Linked DNA regions of Homo sapiens: region 2 is linked to region 1. The links come from fine-mapping of genetic effects on gene expression. A gene starts in region 1. The other region holds a variant in brackets. All regions are shown on one strand. Distances are from middle to middle.

Evidence for each region.
Region 2: its variant is fine-mapped to the expression of HCLS1 in lymphoblastoid cells (TwinsUK, PIP 0.95).

Annotation. Positions count from the first base shown.
Region 1 is chr3:121,657,152-121,665,758 of GRCh38, reverse strand. HCLS1 (hematopoietic cell-specific Lyn substrate 1) reads left to right here and starts at 4,856. Exons shown (of 14, transcript NM_005335.6): 1 at 4,856-4,939; 2 at 7,412-7,495; 3 at 8,407-8,480. The coding sequence starts at 7,412. It overlaps GOLGB1 (golgin B1), which reads left to right. Exons shown (of 22, transcript NM_001366282.2): 21 at 728-833; 22 at 1,145-2,558. The coding sequence ends at 1,279. RefSeq lists enhancers at 4,584-4,633, 4,824-5,013.
Region 2 is chr3:121,797,315-121,805,957 of GRCh38, reverse strand. It overlaps IQCB1 (IQ motif containing B1), which reads left to right. Exons shown (of 15, transcript NM_001023570.4): 8 at 6,584-6,762. Among named protein-coding and RNA genes, the nearest start is that of IQCB1, 33 kb to the left of the region's middle. The variant G/AAG (reference allele first, on the strand shown) is at 4,148.

The DNA of each region.
Region 1 (8,607 bases):
TTGAAAAAGTTCATCCCTATAGGCAAATGCTTGATCAAACGTGCTGTGTTACATGCAGCTCCTTTGTTTGTTTGACATAACCATTGAGTGAGTAATGGCAGCTTCTTCATTAAATGGAGAAGTTCCAGTATTAAATAAGCAAATCAGCAAAAACTGAGCCAGAAGGCAGTGGAGACTGCCAATTCAATTTAATTTTTTTTAGTTCAATTTAATTTTTAAAACCCCACAGAAATCTTCTTTGGATGCTTTTGCCTATTAGCCTTTAATAAAAGAAAAAAATGTAATGAGTTTCTCCAAGTCAGGTGTGGTGTGGTGGAAAAAAGAACGTGAGGCTTGAAAGACAAAGTTGGGTATTGAATTCTGGCTCTGCCGCTTACTGGCTGTGCCGCCATGGGCAAGTAATTTAACCTCTGTAAGCCTTAGCACTTTGAAGATAATAAGACCAACCTCAGAACCTGAGGATTAAATGTATGTAAAGCACCCAGCCTAGAGCCTGATACATAGTGAGTAGGCAGTCAATTCCTGATAGTTATTGTCACATTTTGCTGCTGCTGAAGGAAACGTATCTGCTGGTACCCCCCTTGCATGGGTTTGGGTTTATGGGAGCAGCTTTTGCTGCAAGTCTCCTCCTGTGCTGCATTGTGTGGCAGGATGACTGGGAAGACTGGGCCTGATCAGCCTCTCATGCTATGAACCAATGCTATGCCTCTTTTTTTTCTCAACTCAGGTTAGAGCACAGTGAATGGGACTCTTCCCGGACTCCTATCATTGGCTCCTGTGGCACTCAGGAGCAGGCACTGTTAATAGATCTTACAAGCAACAGTTGTCGAAGGGTAAGAGGAAGAAGGATAAAGAGAGGGTGTTTTATTATCTGACAGGGCTGGCTATACTGGGGGCAAGGAGCTGAGGAGAAGGAATGTGGAAGTCCAGCCACTGAGCAGCGAATGAGTCTAAGGCTGGAAGGGCGTGGAAGATTAGAACCTGGTGGAATTTGCCAAGTTGTTGACTCTGAGGCAACTTTCCTCTCAGAATACCCCTTTCTACAGTGGTTGGGTCAGCTTTGCTTAAGTGCAAGACTAGTAGGAGGGAAAGCAACATAGCCCTATAGGGTGAAAACTCTCTGACTTTCACATTTTTCTTTCAGACCCGGAGTGGCGTTGGATGGAAGCGAGTCCTGCGTTCACTCTGTCATTCACGGACCCGAGTGCCACTTCTAGCAGCCATCTACTTTCTAATGATTCATGTCCTGCTCATTCTGTGTTTTACGGGCCATCTATAGACTTAGTTGTTACTCTTTGGACCACTCCCCTCAAAACTTGGAATTCTCTCACCTCTAACATCAGAACATCAATTCCAGTGGAACAGTCTTCCCATTTACAGGTCTTCTCTCCAACTCTTCACGGAAAGTGCCTGCAAAAACAGAGGTGGATACGAGGACAGGTTGGAGCTGCAGGGACTGGCGAGTCTGCTTTCTTCTACTGCCCTGAGCCTGAACGCTTCTGCTTAATCTGAGAATCACATTTGGTTTGTTGAGCCTAATATTTGTTGAGATTTTGCAGGACCCTGATCTTTTGTGGTCCTGTAAAAGATACTGAGGAATGTCTTTCAGCCAAGCCAAGAGGATGGTTTCAATAAACCTAATAATCTGAAGTTCAGTATCATTTTGATTGATAACTTTCTTTGCCTTGTTTGCCTGTATTTTCTCCTGTTTCAGGGGGAAGGTGGCTCTGCCATAAACAGAGTTCAGGGAAATGAACATGTCACCTCATAGGACATCTGATTTAGGTCTCTTGCAGAATAGGGTGGTGAAAGCTGAAGGAACTCCCTAGGGGTTTTAGCTGTTAGATCACATGGGAGGACAGCATCTTCTTCCCTGCCAATTTCAGATATAATTGGAGGGAGAATTTCAGGTCTTAGACTATAAGGATAGAATCCCTTTGCTTTTGCCCTTGATCACATGTATACTAAGGTATTAAGTGGCCCAAGTCTTTCCTTTCACCAAAGGGCAGGGAGAAGTGTCTATGGACAGCAGGGTTCCAATTCTTGTCATTCCAGGAATATCTGAATATTCCTGGAATGTGGACCCTGAGACAGTGCTCAGGGGCCACTGGGAGCCAATATTAGGCATTGACTCTCAGCCAGGAGTCTGACTGGTCTAACACCACACTGCAACTCCTGACCTCTTGAAGTACTAAGCTACTTTGCTGTTAGTGACAGTTATTACAGTTTCTCAGCCCCATTGTCTCTGCCCTCTGTGGCAATGGAAGGAGAATATAGAGAAGACAAAATTAAATATAGATAGACCTGAGAAGGACAGCCAGGATAGAATTCCATTTGTGCCTATTCCCTGCCTCCCCTCCCCTCCCCCATCCTACCAGTTGGTTATTTTCTCATTGCATACGTGATGTGTTCACTGCCTAGCCTCTCCCTAAAGAAGAGAGAAGACAAGTGGGCTGACTGATCTGCTCTAAATCTACTGTGGTGATTAAATCTTGGTTACAACATCCTGGGAAGTTTCCTGAACAACTGTAAAATAATAAAATTATTTTCAGAATGAAGAGTTTGTGTGTATGTGTGTGTACGTGTGAGTGAATGGATATGTGCACAGGTGTTTCGGTACCTGTGTTTGCATGCTGGGGGGTGGAAGGTGGGTAAGGGAAGTAGGGAAAGGAGGTAGCCAGGAATGGTTATAGGGGTAGAAAGCTCTACATATTCAGGCTTTCTTCTCACTGGCCAATATCAGTGACAGCTGCATGCATTTTTCCAGCCTTAGCTGCTAGACCCCAGGTGATGAATGCAGTGAGGAAATTCTATCCTAATACTGAACCAAATAAGCTGGGCCTTAGGGCATGAAATTGATGCAGGTCCATGCATGGTCCTGGGAGAACTCTTGTCTGGCACATAGTGAAAACATTAGGCCCCTAGGGATCCCTCTGGGTGGGAATGGGAGAAGAGAAGCTTAATAGCATGTAGCAGGTTAGATAGGCATTATTATGTTTTGTTTTGTTTTGTTGGGTTTTTTTTGAGACCGAGTTTCACTCTTTCGCTCAGGCTGGAGTGCAGTGGCACAATCTCAACTCACTGCACCTTCCGCCTTCCAGTTTCAAGCGATTCTCCTGCCTCAGTCTCCCAAATAGCTGGGATTACAGGCACCTGCCACCATGCCCGGCTAATCTTTGCACTTTTAGTAGAGATGGAGTTTCACTGTGTTGGCCAGTCTGGTCTCAAACTCCTGACCTTGTGATCCACCCGCCTCAGCCTCCCAAAGTGCTGGGATTAGAGGTGTGAGCCACCGTGCCCAGCTATTATGGATTTTTATATTAAGTTGCTGCTTGAGAGAAGATAGCTCACTTTCTCAAAGTACAATAAGTGGTTTAATTGAACCAAGTCTGTCTGGCTTCAAGGCCCATTCTTTTTCTGTGTGATACACCTCACTACCTCATCAGTAATGAACTTGTGACATTTGCTAAGGAAAGATGGGACTTCTTGGTGTCATCTCTGATTAATTTCTATATTTTCTCTAGAGAACTATGTACCTGGATGGTGTGTCACATCATCTAGTCTAAATCGTATTTTGACACTACATGAGGATTCCAAGTGATTTTTCTCTTGTACAAACGTACTCTTCCTTATCATAACTTTGGTACCACCATGATAAATAGGTAATAAAGTAGAAGGAATAAATAAAGCTCCCCCAGGCATAGAATCCTTAGATTTGGAAGTGACAGAGGCTTCATATTCCTAATGCAGAAAAGTGCCTGTATCATGGGCCAGTTTCATCCAGTCCTGCTTAAACTCCTTGGAGGATGCACCGTTGTGAACAAATCAAGAAGTCCACAATCAAGATTAGGAAAGGCTAGGTCAGATACAATAACAGACACCCTCAAATTCTCAGTAGCCAAAACAAAGGACTATTTTTTAGTGAAAGACTCCAATTCCCCCACATGGTGGATGGGGCTCCACTTGTGTTCTTTCTCACTCAGGGACCCAGTCTGCTGGAGGAGCCAATATGGAGAATTGCAGGTTGCCTTGGGCAGTGGTGAAAGCATGGCAAAGCTTGCAGTGGTCTTACGGCCTCCGCCAGAAAGTGGTATCTGTCACTGGCCAAAACAAGTCACCTGAGTAAGTCTGACTTCAAGAGGGAAGGGAGGGGCAGCAAGTCTTGACACGCAGTAAAACAGGATACCACAAAGACCTTCTTCCATCAGCTGACCAGCACCTGGTTCTTTCAGAATTCTTCCTACGCTCTAGAGCCAAATCTTTAGTTTGTTAGCTCAGACTCCACAGTGCCCCAAACAAGCTAGGAAACTCTCCTTCCATGTCTTGCCTTTTCCCTCATGAGTTATTCTCTTCTGGCATTCAATTGGTCGACGTTTATTTGAACATCTATATGAAAACTCCACTTTTAAGTGCTGTGGGTAATATAGGGGTGAGTTTCTTTTTAAGTCTTATGCTTCAAAACCCACATATAAATCACTTTTCCCATAAAGCCTTTCTTGATGAATACACCCAATACCAAATGCTCTGAATTCCTTTACTGTCTCAAATGTAACTGCCACCCTATTTAGGACACAATGCTGTTCTACAGCATTCTCTAATGTGTTTTCTGGTTGAATGTTTGTTTCTCTCACTGGATTACAAACTCAGAGTCAAAGCAGCATTTTCTATGACTGCTCTATGACCCCCATTGTCAAAACCTTGCAAAAGACCAGGCACAGAAACATTTAATCCTTTTAAAATTTAAGTGTCTAAAGCAGAAGGAACTGACTCAAATTTCAGGAAGTAGCTGTGAGGATGGGGTGGCAGGAAATGACGAAAACCTGAATACGGAACTGAAGCAGCAGCTCAGTTTCTCACTCCGAAGTGGCAGCAGCCAGAGAGGGAGTCGGTGTGGACGCGAGGAGCCGGGCGCTTAGAACAGAGGCTTGCACAGGTGGAGGTGGGTACTCTGAGCCATGGGACAGTTGGGAAACACAGAGTAAGAGTTGAGGAGGAACCTACCTGGCTCTTAGTCCTTGGTGATGGGCAAGGTCACCACTAGTAGGCTTTTATCCTTTTATGGCCAGAAGGCCTGGTTGTGAGTGGTTGTAGCAAATCAGCATCTGGAGATAGAAACAAAAGGGAGGGGCTTAAACCCAAGGCAAGTGTTTCAGGAGCCATCTAGCACCAACATCAAGCAAAGTGTTGCCTGGTTTCTGCTGACAATCTACAACCCACTCTAAGGCCTGTCTCCCCTAGGTACTGAGCTGGGAGGAGGACCACAGGAGACGAAAACAGTGTCTGCCCTTGAAGAGCATATGGTCTCAGGGAAACAAACCCACACAGGAAATGTAACAGATCAGGAAGTAGTCACTGATGTACACTAGCACTGAGTACCAAGTGCTGATGGAGCCCAAGAGAAGGCATGATTGTTCTGCTGGGGCTAGTTTCTGTGTTCGTAGATCACAGAATCTCAGAATGTCAGAAATCAAGGAGACCACAGATGAGCTACGTTAACCCCTTCATTATTTTCCACTGGGAAAATCAGAGATAATTGCTGATTTGCCAAATTATTAAAGTTAGTATTTCTTAATCGCCTGGTCTGATACCTGGCAAATGAGTACCTACTCTGTTGATGCCCTTGTGATGGTCCCTCAGAGGCTTAGTCACAGAGCTGGGGTGACAGCCAGGGCTTCTGACTCCCAGTCTGTGTACTTTGATGCAGGAGGTCAGCATCGCAACAAGGCCTCACCAGATTACTCTCTGGTTCTCACCTCTAGATAGCACTTCTTACCTTTCTGGTTTCTGGTCAATAGGTCAAGGATATTAGATAAATTGTCTCTATTTCAGAAACTCTTTATTTCAAAAATGGGTGAATGGGAGAGTCAGGCTGAGGCCTCAGAGGAGCCACAGGAAGGAGGATGGGACCATCAGTCCTCATTGCTTCCTTATTGCTCATGACTATTTCAGAAACTTCTCCATTCCAGTTTTCTGTGTGACAGTCCTTTTGTTGTTGCACAGCAGCCCAGGAGCCAGGGGATGAGAAGCAGAGGGGTAGTAAGGATGCAGGTAGTAAGGATGTTTTGCTGTCTCCAACCGCATCAGGGAAAGCCAAGCTGCTTTCAGCCATGACTCCCGGCTGACTCAGTCAATATCTCTCCGGTGTCCCCTTAGCATCTCTTTAACTGATTTACCCAGACTTCCCCTGGGCTGGTTTTTAAGAGGTTGCTCAATGGAGAAGATGGAGCTTTCAAGTGGAAATAGAAAACTGGAGAATCTGAAGGCCTAGGTGGAGACAGGAGAACCCGAGGAGTGGTTGTAAAGGGACTCTTTGGAGACGATGGAGAGCATGGGGAAGGTCTCCAATGGGATGAGGTGTCTGAGGAGGGAAGGATTGCCAGCTAGCAAGTGCTGCCAGGGTCAAGAAGTCTCAGTGGTGACCACAGCAGATGAGCATTGTCTGTTGTTACTTCTTCACACCAAATCCACAGATGCAGAGCAACTGTGCCGCTCTTCCTTCTGCACAGTCCGGAAGGCCGTCTAGAACACTGGGAATGCCCCAGCAGAATAAGTTTGGCACCCTTCCAAGCTAGGGTTCTCTAAATATTTCTGCAACATTTATTTAGTTGATAAAAACTGAGTACCTCTTAATGTTCAAAATCAGATTTATTACATATTATTCTTTTTTCTTTTCTACGGTAAATTGTCAACTTGAAAACATGCTATTTTTTGACTTTAGCAATTAATTGAACCATTTTTAAAAAATTGAGTAATAACTGACTTATTCCCAGCAAATAATGCTCTCCCAATGCATTGTTCCATGTGGAAATTTCAGCCGACTGTCGCTGCTGACCTTACACAGCTGTGAGGTGACCAGACTCAGGGTGGAGGTGGGACAGCACTTGGACCAGAGGCTGGAAAAATTCTCAGTGTAGTTCAGCAGGTTGTAAAGAGGGATGTAGATGTTCACTTTGTGAGAAGCAGAACCAATTTGTATTTCAACAGCAACAAAGGAATCATATATAGAAACCTGAGTGAAATAAGGCCATAATTCTAGGGATATTATAGCACCGCTCATTGCCAACCACCTCCAGCCACTGCCTGGCTGGCCTCGGGACACAAGTGAACAATTCCAGCAATTTTGACTCGTGGGTTACCTAGTGTTACCCACACCCATGATGACTTCTCTCTAGCCCCAGGTGGGCCCAGCCCACATCAATTCGTCTTGATTAAAGTCCCATCTCTCATCTTGTAACTGAGCAGAAAAGCCTTCCTACAACTCCCATTTGCTTTGCTTCATTTTCTATTTTCTTCTAAGAAAAAAAAAATGGCAGGAAATATTGGGCTGCTATATTTTGACTTCAGCATTCCTATTTTCCCTCCTCTTGATCCTTTTTTGTCCCTAATTATTCCCATCTCCGGTCACTCTCAGATGTGGAAGTCTGTAGTGGGCCATGATGTGTCTGTTTCCGTGGAGACCCAGGGTGATGATTGGGACACAGATCCTGACTTTGTGGTGAGTTTGGAAGTAGCTTTGCTTGGACAGTGCAGAGGGTGGGGTGAGGAGGGCATCTGGGCCACTCTGTGATCTTTGAGGATGCTTGGAAAAGGGCCTTCTAGGACTGAGACAGCCCTCATACTGGGACTAATTGGTAGGACAATTGGCTGTCACCTGTGGGGCATGCACGATACCTGGTATCAGGGATGAAAAGAGACAGGTGTGGGTGAGTTTGACAGTGTGATTGACAGGCCATGGCAGGCTACACTGAAGGTGAGAAGCAGGTGAACCTGGGTCTCCCCTGGCCCATGATCCAGGATTCAAGCTGGGCATGTGTAATTGGGGGATTAAAAAGCTGTAGGAGACCAGATGGGGTAGGCATGAAGTAGGCAGAGGAGGAACGGAGGTTTCAGAGCTCACTAGTTTAATTCTTTGTGTTTTCTTGTTTGTTTTTTGAGACAGAGTCTCACTCTGTCACCCAGGCTGGAGTACGGTGGTGCAATCTCAGCTCACTGCAACCTCTGCCTCCCAGGTTCAAGCGATTCTCCTACCTCAGCCTCCCAAGTAGTCCCTGCAGTTGGGACTACAGGTGCATGCCACCACACCTGGCTAATTTTTGTATTTTTTTGGTAGAGATGGGGTTTCACCATGTTGGCCAAGCTAGTCTTGAGCTCCTGACCTAAAGAGATCCACCCGCCTCGGCCTCCTAAAATGCTAGGATTACAGGCATAAGCCACCACGCCTGGCCTCACCAGTTTAATTCTTACATGGGGTCAGGATGGGATAAATATAGAGGGGATGTGAATAAAGACCCAGACTGAAGAAGGCAGTGGACACAGGGGACATGGAGGGCATGTGTCAGTTGGGTGGCCCTTCTCAATGTGGCACATTTCTTGCCGTCATGTATTACTGCGTGCTGTCGTTTGCAGAATGACATCTCTGAAAAGGAGCAACGATGGGGAGCCAAGACCATCGAGGGGTCTGGACGCACAGAACACATCAAGTAGGTGCCGAAAGGACTGGAGAAAAGGAAGGGGGTTATGGGAAGAGCCCAAAGAAAACTCGGAGACTTGGGGGAAGGTGAGGGAGGAAAAGGATAGGGTAGTTCATGTCTATGTATTATTGTGTTT
Region 2 (8,643 bases), 140 kb before region 1:
GGGAGAGGCATCCCAGCCAGCTTGAGTTGAAGTGATAGAGCTCAGAGTCTGGAGAGAACAAGATAACTAGAGTTCACAAGTCAGAATACTAGAGAAGAGAGCTATACATGTAGAGAACCCCAGAGATCTGCAGAGGGTATCCTTCAAGTATTAAGTAGAGTACTGATCTGCACATTGTAAGGAATACCCAATGCCAGGGAAAACAATAATCCAAAAGGATTAAAAGGAACAGTGCAAGGAGCTCACACAGGGCCAGAAATAGTGCCTGTTTCCAACAGCCAAACTGGAAAGCCTCATAAACAGTGCGTCATTGGGTAGAGTGTTCAGGAAGGTTTTACTCCAGTAGTGAGGAATAATTAGCATTAGAATGAGCACTATTCCAGATCATAAAAGCAAGACCCAAAAGGGTCAAACTGTTTCCAAGTAACTTAACTGCATGTGGTTATTGAACCTGGCTGTATTTTAAAATTAATTTTATTGTAGGTTATACAAAGGTAGGAAGTTCACTAGAAATGGCTATCCTTCGATTTGGCTTTAAAAAGGATGAGAAAAATCCCACTTGTGCCATCATAGAATATTTGCTTTGATGACTCTTTTTTTCTATTTCTTTATTACTGTAAAATGACTATTTCTTGCAGTTACTGATAACTACTTGCAGTACTGCATGTATCTTGCAGTACTGATACATGATAGATTATACAGTCATGACTATGCTACAAAACATACTACGATTCAACGGGTGATTTGATTTTACTGGTACTGAAGTACTGGGCATGCAAATAAACAAGAAAACAGGATCTAAAATGAGAAGAATTAATCAAGACTGGTACATATGTTGGAATTAACAGACAAGGACACTAGTTATTATAACCATACTCCATATATTTAAAAAGTTGAATACAGACATATAAGACTCAAAGTGAATTTCTAGACATGAAATCTACAATATCTGAGATGAAAAATACACTGGATGGGATTAACAGCAGATTAACATTGCAGATTAGTGAACTTTAAGGCGTATCAGTAGAAACTATCCAAAATGAAACAAAGAAGAAACAAGAGGAAAGAAAAGCATATCAGTGAACTGTGGGACAACTTGAGCAACCTTACATAAGTGTAATCAGAGTACGTAAAGCAGGCAGTAGGGTCACAAAAAAATGTGTGAAGAAGTAATGACTTAACATTTTCCAAATTTGATGAAAACTATAAACATGCAGATGCAAAAAGGTCGTCAAACCCTGAGGGCAATAAATATGAAGAAAATTCCACATTGAGGCACATCGTAATCAAAATGCTCAAACCAGTGATAAAGAGAAAAATCTTAAAAGCAACCAGAGATGAAAAAACATTATATAGAGAAATAGAGATAAGGATGACAGCAACTTTCTTATCAGAAACAACACAAGTAAAAAGACAGTTGAATACTGAAAAAGAAAACTGTCAAATTAGAATTACATGCTCAGCAGAAATATATTCAAAAGCAAAGATGAAATACTTCTTCAGAAATCACCAGCAGACCAACACTACAAAAAATATTCAAGGAAGTCCTTCCATCAGAAGGGAAATTCATCTACACAAAGAAATAGAGTATCGGAAATGGTGATTACATAAACATATAAGATAGTTTTTCTTATATTATTTTAATATATCTATAATATGTTTGCCTACACAAAAATAATGCTGTATTTGAGGAACATATGTATAAGTAGAATGTATTCCAAAAGGGCATTAAGGCTGGGAGGAGATAAATGGAAGTATACTGATGTAAGACTCTTATACTATACATGAAGTGGTATAATATCACTGTGATAAGTGATAAGACTGTGAGAAATTGAAATGTATACTTTGAACCTCAAAGCAGTGAAGAAAATAGCAAAACAAAGAATTTACAGCTGATAAGCCAACAAAGGCAATAAAAATTAATCATTAAAAAATACGCAATCCAGAAGAAGGAAGTAAAAAAAAAAGAAGAACAAAGGAGAAACAAAACCAAGTGGTAGATTTAAACCTATCTATCTTAGATGTAAATGTGGAAAAACTAAAGTTAAAAGACAGATTGACAGATTGGATTTAAAAAGTACAAGCCTACTATATGCTGTCTACCAGAAATGCACCTTAGATATAAAGACACAAGTAGGTTAAAAGTAATGGGGTGGAACAAGATATACCGTGCTTATACCACAGAAAGTTGAAGTACCTGTATTAGTATCAGATAAAGTAAGTTACAGAACAAAGAATATTTCTAGTGCTAAAGAAGGTTATTTCATAATCATAAAAAAAGTCAGTTCATCAAAAGGATGTGTTTATTGACCTAATAGAGTTTTAAAATACACAAGCAAAAATTGACAAGAACTACAAGGAGAAATCCTCAATTAAAGCAAAAGATGTTAATATACCTCTTTTGATATTTAATAGAATAAGTAGACAAAAAAATTAGTATGACCACAGATTTGAACAATAATATCAACCAATCTGACCTGATTGACATTTTACAAATATTCTACCAAACAGTAGCAGAATACATGTTCTTTTCAAATGCAGATGGAACATTTACAAAGAAGGGTGCATATTCCGAGCCATAAATAAAGTCTCAAGAAACACAAAAGGGGCCGGGCACGGTGGCTCACACCTGTAATCTCAGCACTTTGCTGAGGTGAGCAGATCACTTAAGTCCAGGAGATCCAGACCAGCCTGGGCAGCATGGCAAAACCCCATCTCTACAAAAAGTACAAAAAATTAGCTGGGCATGGTGGCAGGTGCCTCTAGTCCCAGCTACTTGGGATGCTGAGGTGGGAGAATCTCTTGAGCCCAGGAAGCAGAGGTTACGGTGAGTTGAGATCACATCACTACACTCCAGCCTAGGCAACAGAGCAAGACCCTGTCTCAAAAAAAAGAAAAAAGCAACGTAAAAGGATTTCAGTTATACAAAGTATGTTCTCTGGCCTCGATGGAATTAAGTTGGAAATTGATGCCAAGAAGATCTCTGAAAAGTCCCCAAATATGTGGGAAATAATAACATTCATCTAAATAACTCACAAGACAAAGGAGAAATCAAAAGTGAAATTAGAAATTATTTTTAAATGAATGGAAATAAAAACAACATGAGAATTTCTGGGGAAATTCTTAATTAAAGCAGAATGATACTTAGGGGAAATTTATATCACTAATGCCTATATATTAGAAAAGAAGAAAAATCTCAAATCATTGACCTCGGCTTTCCCCTTTAAGAAACTAGGAAAAGAAGGGGGAATTAAACTCTAAGCAGAAGAAAGAAAATGATAAAGGTTGAGCAGAAATCAATAAAATTCTAAGCAAACGTGATAGAGAAATAAACCATAAACTGGATCTTTGGGAAGATTGAAGTTTTTTGAGAAAACAAACCATAAACTGGCTCTTTGAGAAGAAACCTGTAGCAAGATTAATATGGAAAGGAAAAGACATAATACAAATGACCAATCTCAGGAATTAGAGAGGTAACATCGTAACAGAGTCTACAAATACTAAAAATATCACAAGGGAATAATATAAACAACTTTATGCTTATAAATTTAACAACTTAGATCAAATGGACAAATTTATTGAAAGACGCAAACTACCAAAATTTACTCAAGGAGCAATAGAGAACCCAAATATACTCTAGATAGCTATAAAAAAAAATTGAATTTGTAGCTAAAAACCTTCCCACAAAGAGAACTCCAGGTCTGGATGGCTTTTTCACTGTGAATTCTATTAAGCACTTCAGGAAGAAATAATAATCTTAAGCAAACTTTTCTAGAAAATCGAAAAGGAGGAAACACTTACAACTCATTCTATAAGGTCAGCATTATCCTGATACCAAAACCAAACAAAGACATTATAAGAAAAGAAAACTACTCATCAGTATATTCATAAACATAGATAGAAATGTTCTGAACAAAATTTTATAAGTCAAATTCAACAATATATTAAAAAGTTAATACGTCATGAATAATTCTGGTTTATCCCGGCATTCAGGGCTGGTTTAATATTCTGAAGTCAGTCATTGTAACTTATGTTAACAAGCTAAAAATGGAAAAAACATACCATCATATCAGTAGATACAGAAAAAGCTTTTGACAAAATCCATTATCTAGCCCTGATTTTAATTAAAAAAAAAAAAAAAAAAAAA[G/AAG]GCCTTGCAGCAAAGTAGTAATACAAGGGAACTTTCTCAGAAAGCAGATCGGTGGTTTCCTGGGCATAGAATGATAGGGAAGGCAACAAGGGAGGAACTACAATGAAATACAAGGAAGCTTTTAGGGGTGATAGATATATTCATTTTCTTGTTTTATGTTGGTGAAACATGTCAAACTGATGAAATTATATGCTTTACATATATGCAGTTTGTTGTATATCAATTATATTTTTAAAAAGCTGTTTAAAACAAAAATTATGATGACTTGGTGAATGTTTTGATATGGGGTAGATAAAATAAATGGTGCAGTCAGATATGATACCAAGTTTTCTGTATTGGGTGATTAGACTGTGGTATGTGGAATATATAAGAAGTTGGTTTTGTGAGACAGATGATTAATTCAATGTTGGTTATGTTGAGTATAGGTAGTTCAACATGCAGTAAAAGTAAGTATCTATATAAAGACTTATACACAAATGTTCATTGAGCTTTATTTGTGAAAAACAAGGACTAGCTAAAACTCAAATGTCCATCAGGTGAATAGGTAAACTAACTTCTGGAAGAGATTGGGACTAGAGTTACAGATTTACAAATCAGCTTATACATGGTAGAGAAAAACATGACAGAAAGTGAGATTAGTAGGAAGTGTGAATACAATGAGAAAATAAATGGCTTGAAAATGGAGTCTTGGGGAATAACCTTTTAGGGTTATACTGGGGAAGTGGAGCCCACAAAGACAAATGAAAAAGAATGGTCAGAAAAGTATGGGTGGAAGGTAGAGGGGAGACCAGAACTTTGTATCACAGAAGCTGAGTAAGTAGAAAGTATCAGATACAAACAAGTCTAGGAAAAGAATCACTTATGGTATATATGTGACTTGACATTTGGGAAGTTATACTGATGAACTTATCAAGGATAGTATAGTGAAATAGTAAAAAATGAAAACTAGATGCAGTGGTTTGAGAAATGAGATGTGAGATAGTGGCAACAGAAATTGGATTAGAAGAGAAGCAGAGAGATAAGATGGTAGTGGTATAGAGAGGATGTCTTTAAGATTAGGAGGTTGAAGAGCATCTAAAAGCATTTAAACTACTGTATTACATTATAGCACAAACTCTTGGTGGGATATGGAGTAAAGATGTGATAAGATTGGGATAGGGATATCTGTAGAAGGCTTTCTGAGATGAGCATATTTTTTAATCTGAGTTTTGAATAGTGTGATGACATTGACTGATGGGACAGGGTGAGCATCCTAGGCATAGGGAATAGCATGTAAGAGACACAGTGGCACAGAAGTAGATGTCACAAAGATTCTCACATATTTTGATTGGATAACTTTATAAAGTCTTTCAACTCAGAGATTTTTACATTTAAGGTATGTTGCTGATCTCTTTTCTCTTAACAAAATTATTTTAGTAACTACTAAAGTACAATTTTCAAAAAGCTCAAACATGAGTCTTATACAAATATAAAATTTGACTGCTCAAAATTTTATGCAACTCATTAATGAGGGAACAAATAAGATATTTATACAGGGTCAAAGGAGAATTTGAGGAAAATAGATTTATGGAGTTGGTTTGTCGAAGAAATGTAGAAGTAAATTTGCTGATAGATTTTTAAAATTTGCTAATAGGAAAATATGACTTATAAAGCAATGTAGCTTCTAGAATTACCTTTTCTACTGGACAGAAATCATTTGTATTGCTTTGAATAAGAGTCTGTTTACATTGCTCTTAGATAAGAATCTTTAGCATTGTTTTCTACCAGCCAACCTCTATTTTTACAGAATTGTAAAGTATTTTAATAGTGAGTAGAAAATTAAACAGAGGTACATACGCCTAGAAAATCACATAACTCCTTAAGGGGGTAAATAAAAGGATACTCACTAACCCTTTCCTTTTGACTATTTCTAAGTTTTAGATAATTTTTCACAACATCAGTAATACAAGATGGGTTGTTAGTATAATGAAGGAAATACCAAGGAAAGATTTTAAGTTTCTCCTATATTAAGCACATGATAGAATTCCTATGGCATTTTTGTCTTTGTACATCATTTAAAAATTAACTGTGTACCTGTCTTGATTTCACTTTTATCATTGCCTTGAAGCTTTTAAATTATTTATTGTTTAGTATTTTGCACATTTATATTTCATCCTTGATTTGATTGCAGGCTTCTCTAAGGAGAAGGCCTTTGGCTACTTTGTATTCTCTATTGTACCTAGCACACATGGCACCTTGCACACAGTAGGAATTCAATAAATATTAAGTGACTGAATATGATATCTTCTTGGAACCAACATATATTTGAAAAAGTGGTTATATTCTTGGATCAGGACACAGTCCGGCATCAAGTTACTGAATCTTATATTTTAGATTTGTTGTGATACCTGTACATCAATTAGTAATGGTACTTTTTTTTTTATTTTGTTCTATTAGTGGTGATTTACTCAGAATAGGAAGAAAAGCCCTGTATTCAATTTTAGATGAAGTTATTTTCAAGCTTTTTTCAACTCCTAGTCCAGTTATAAGAAGTACTGCTACAAAACTCCTACTGTTGATGGCTGAATCCCATCAGGAAATTTTGATTTTACTGAGACAAAGTACCTGCTACAAAGGTAGTACATTCATTCTTTCTTTTCTTGGGATTCTCAAAAAGAAAATTTTTATTGATGGTTTATGAAAAACAAAATTCTTATATTTTAAAGAGTTGATAACTGACCTATGTAGATAAAACTCACAACAGATACCAATTCAGAAAAAAAAAAGTCTTTATATAATCAAGCTATCTTCATGTCACTACAGATAGCATGTGGAAGATACTTTTCTGATCAGGTTGCCATAAATATTTACTCCCTCTCTGACAAAAAGGTTTTGTGTGTTGAATATACCATATAGTATAGTAAAATAATGACCAAAAAGATCAGTGACCTTATCAAGACCAGCTTTAGTGGAGAAAATGGAGCTGTGCTTGAGAGGCCAGTGGCCCTTATGGTATTTTGAACTATCAATAATTACTTAACACTGCCTTTCCTCAAAAACAAACAAAAAAAATTGCCTTACCTCCAAAATCAAATACATATGTGAATTAAAAGTCAGAAATTTTGAGGATAAAAGGAGTAAGCGTATATACATTCTCATATAATAGCTTTCATTTAATTGAGCATTTACTGTGTGTCAGGCACATTCCATATACTTTATATGCATTAAAATGTTTAATCTTTACAACAATCCTATGGGATAGATATTCTTATCCTTATTTTATAGATATAGAAACAGAGACATGGTAATTTGCCCAAGATCACAAAGGTAGTATATATATTGTTTAATTGCCAAGCAAAGTTATATGTTATCTTTGTTTTATTTCTTTGCTGACCAGAGCCATGTATGTATTATAATCTATTTTTCTTATTCAGCGTGGTCAGGAAATGGGATTCTAGTTCATTAAATATACTTATTAACATAGGGTTATACTGTATGGGAATTTTTAAAGGTTAGAATATAATATGATGCATTTAATACCTAAACAACTAGAAAGGTCTTTATCATTCTTGATGATTTTGAAGACATTGTAATAATGTACCTTGAATTAGTCATTACTGAGGGTATTGTAGGAATAGAGAAGGAAAGTACCAGTAATAGAGCTCTTTAGTTGATATTGTGCCAGATAGACATTTTTCAATTCTGTAATTCAATTCCTAAAGAAATGTGAATGTCCAACAGAGTCGTTATAAAGGAATTTTACCTGAATCCTTCTCCCTTTCTTTGACTTATATCTCAATAGCAGAACTTATTCAGATTCCTGAAGATATTTTACAATTATTAATACTGCTGAGAACTTGGGTGTTGAAGAGAGTATAAGGCATTAAAAGATCCATATAGTGGTTTCCCCAATTATACACTACAAGGCAATTTTACCTTATGTATTTATTTTGAATACACACATTATAATACATCATTTCAGTGTACCCTGGAAACAGTACTTACTTTGTACCTTTCACTACTACTATGTATTATTTTGGCATGAAAATGTACTATCCTAGTGTTGTAGCACTTCACCTATAATGTTTTCCCAGGAACCTATTGATTTGCCCCAAATTATATATGTTACCATATGTTTATATTTAATAATCTTTTTCAACTAATAATGACTAATAATAATCTGCATAAGTGCTTCCACAGGGCAAGCATTTACTGAATATGTGTCTGTAGTAATTTATCTTTAAAATGTCTCCATTTAAGTATTTTTGTTCAAATAAAAAAAATTTATCTCTACTTTTTGATTTACCACAGTGATTCCATCCCACTCCTTTTTTTTTTTTTTTATTAAAGAGATTGTCTAGACAGATTTTTTTTTTTTTATCAGATACCACAATTGAGCACGTAAGAATTCTCAGGAGGGAGGAATATCTTAAAGATTTCAACCTGGAATTCTCTGAGAAAAGGAAAAAGAAAAATCATATGATTAATCTTGTTTTCATTTGTTTTTAAGCCAGACT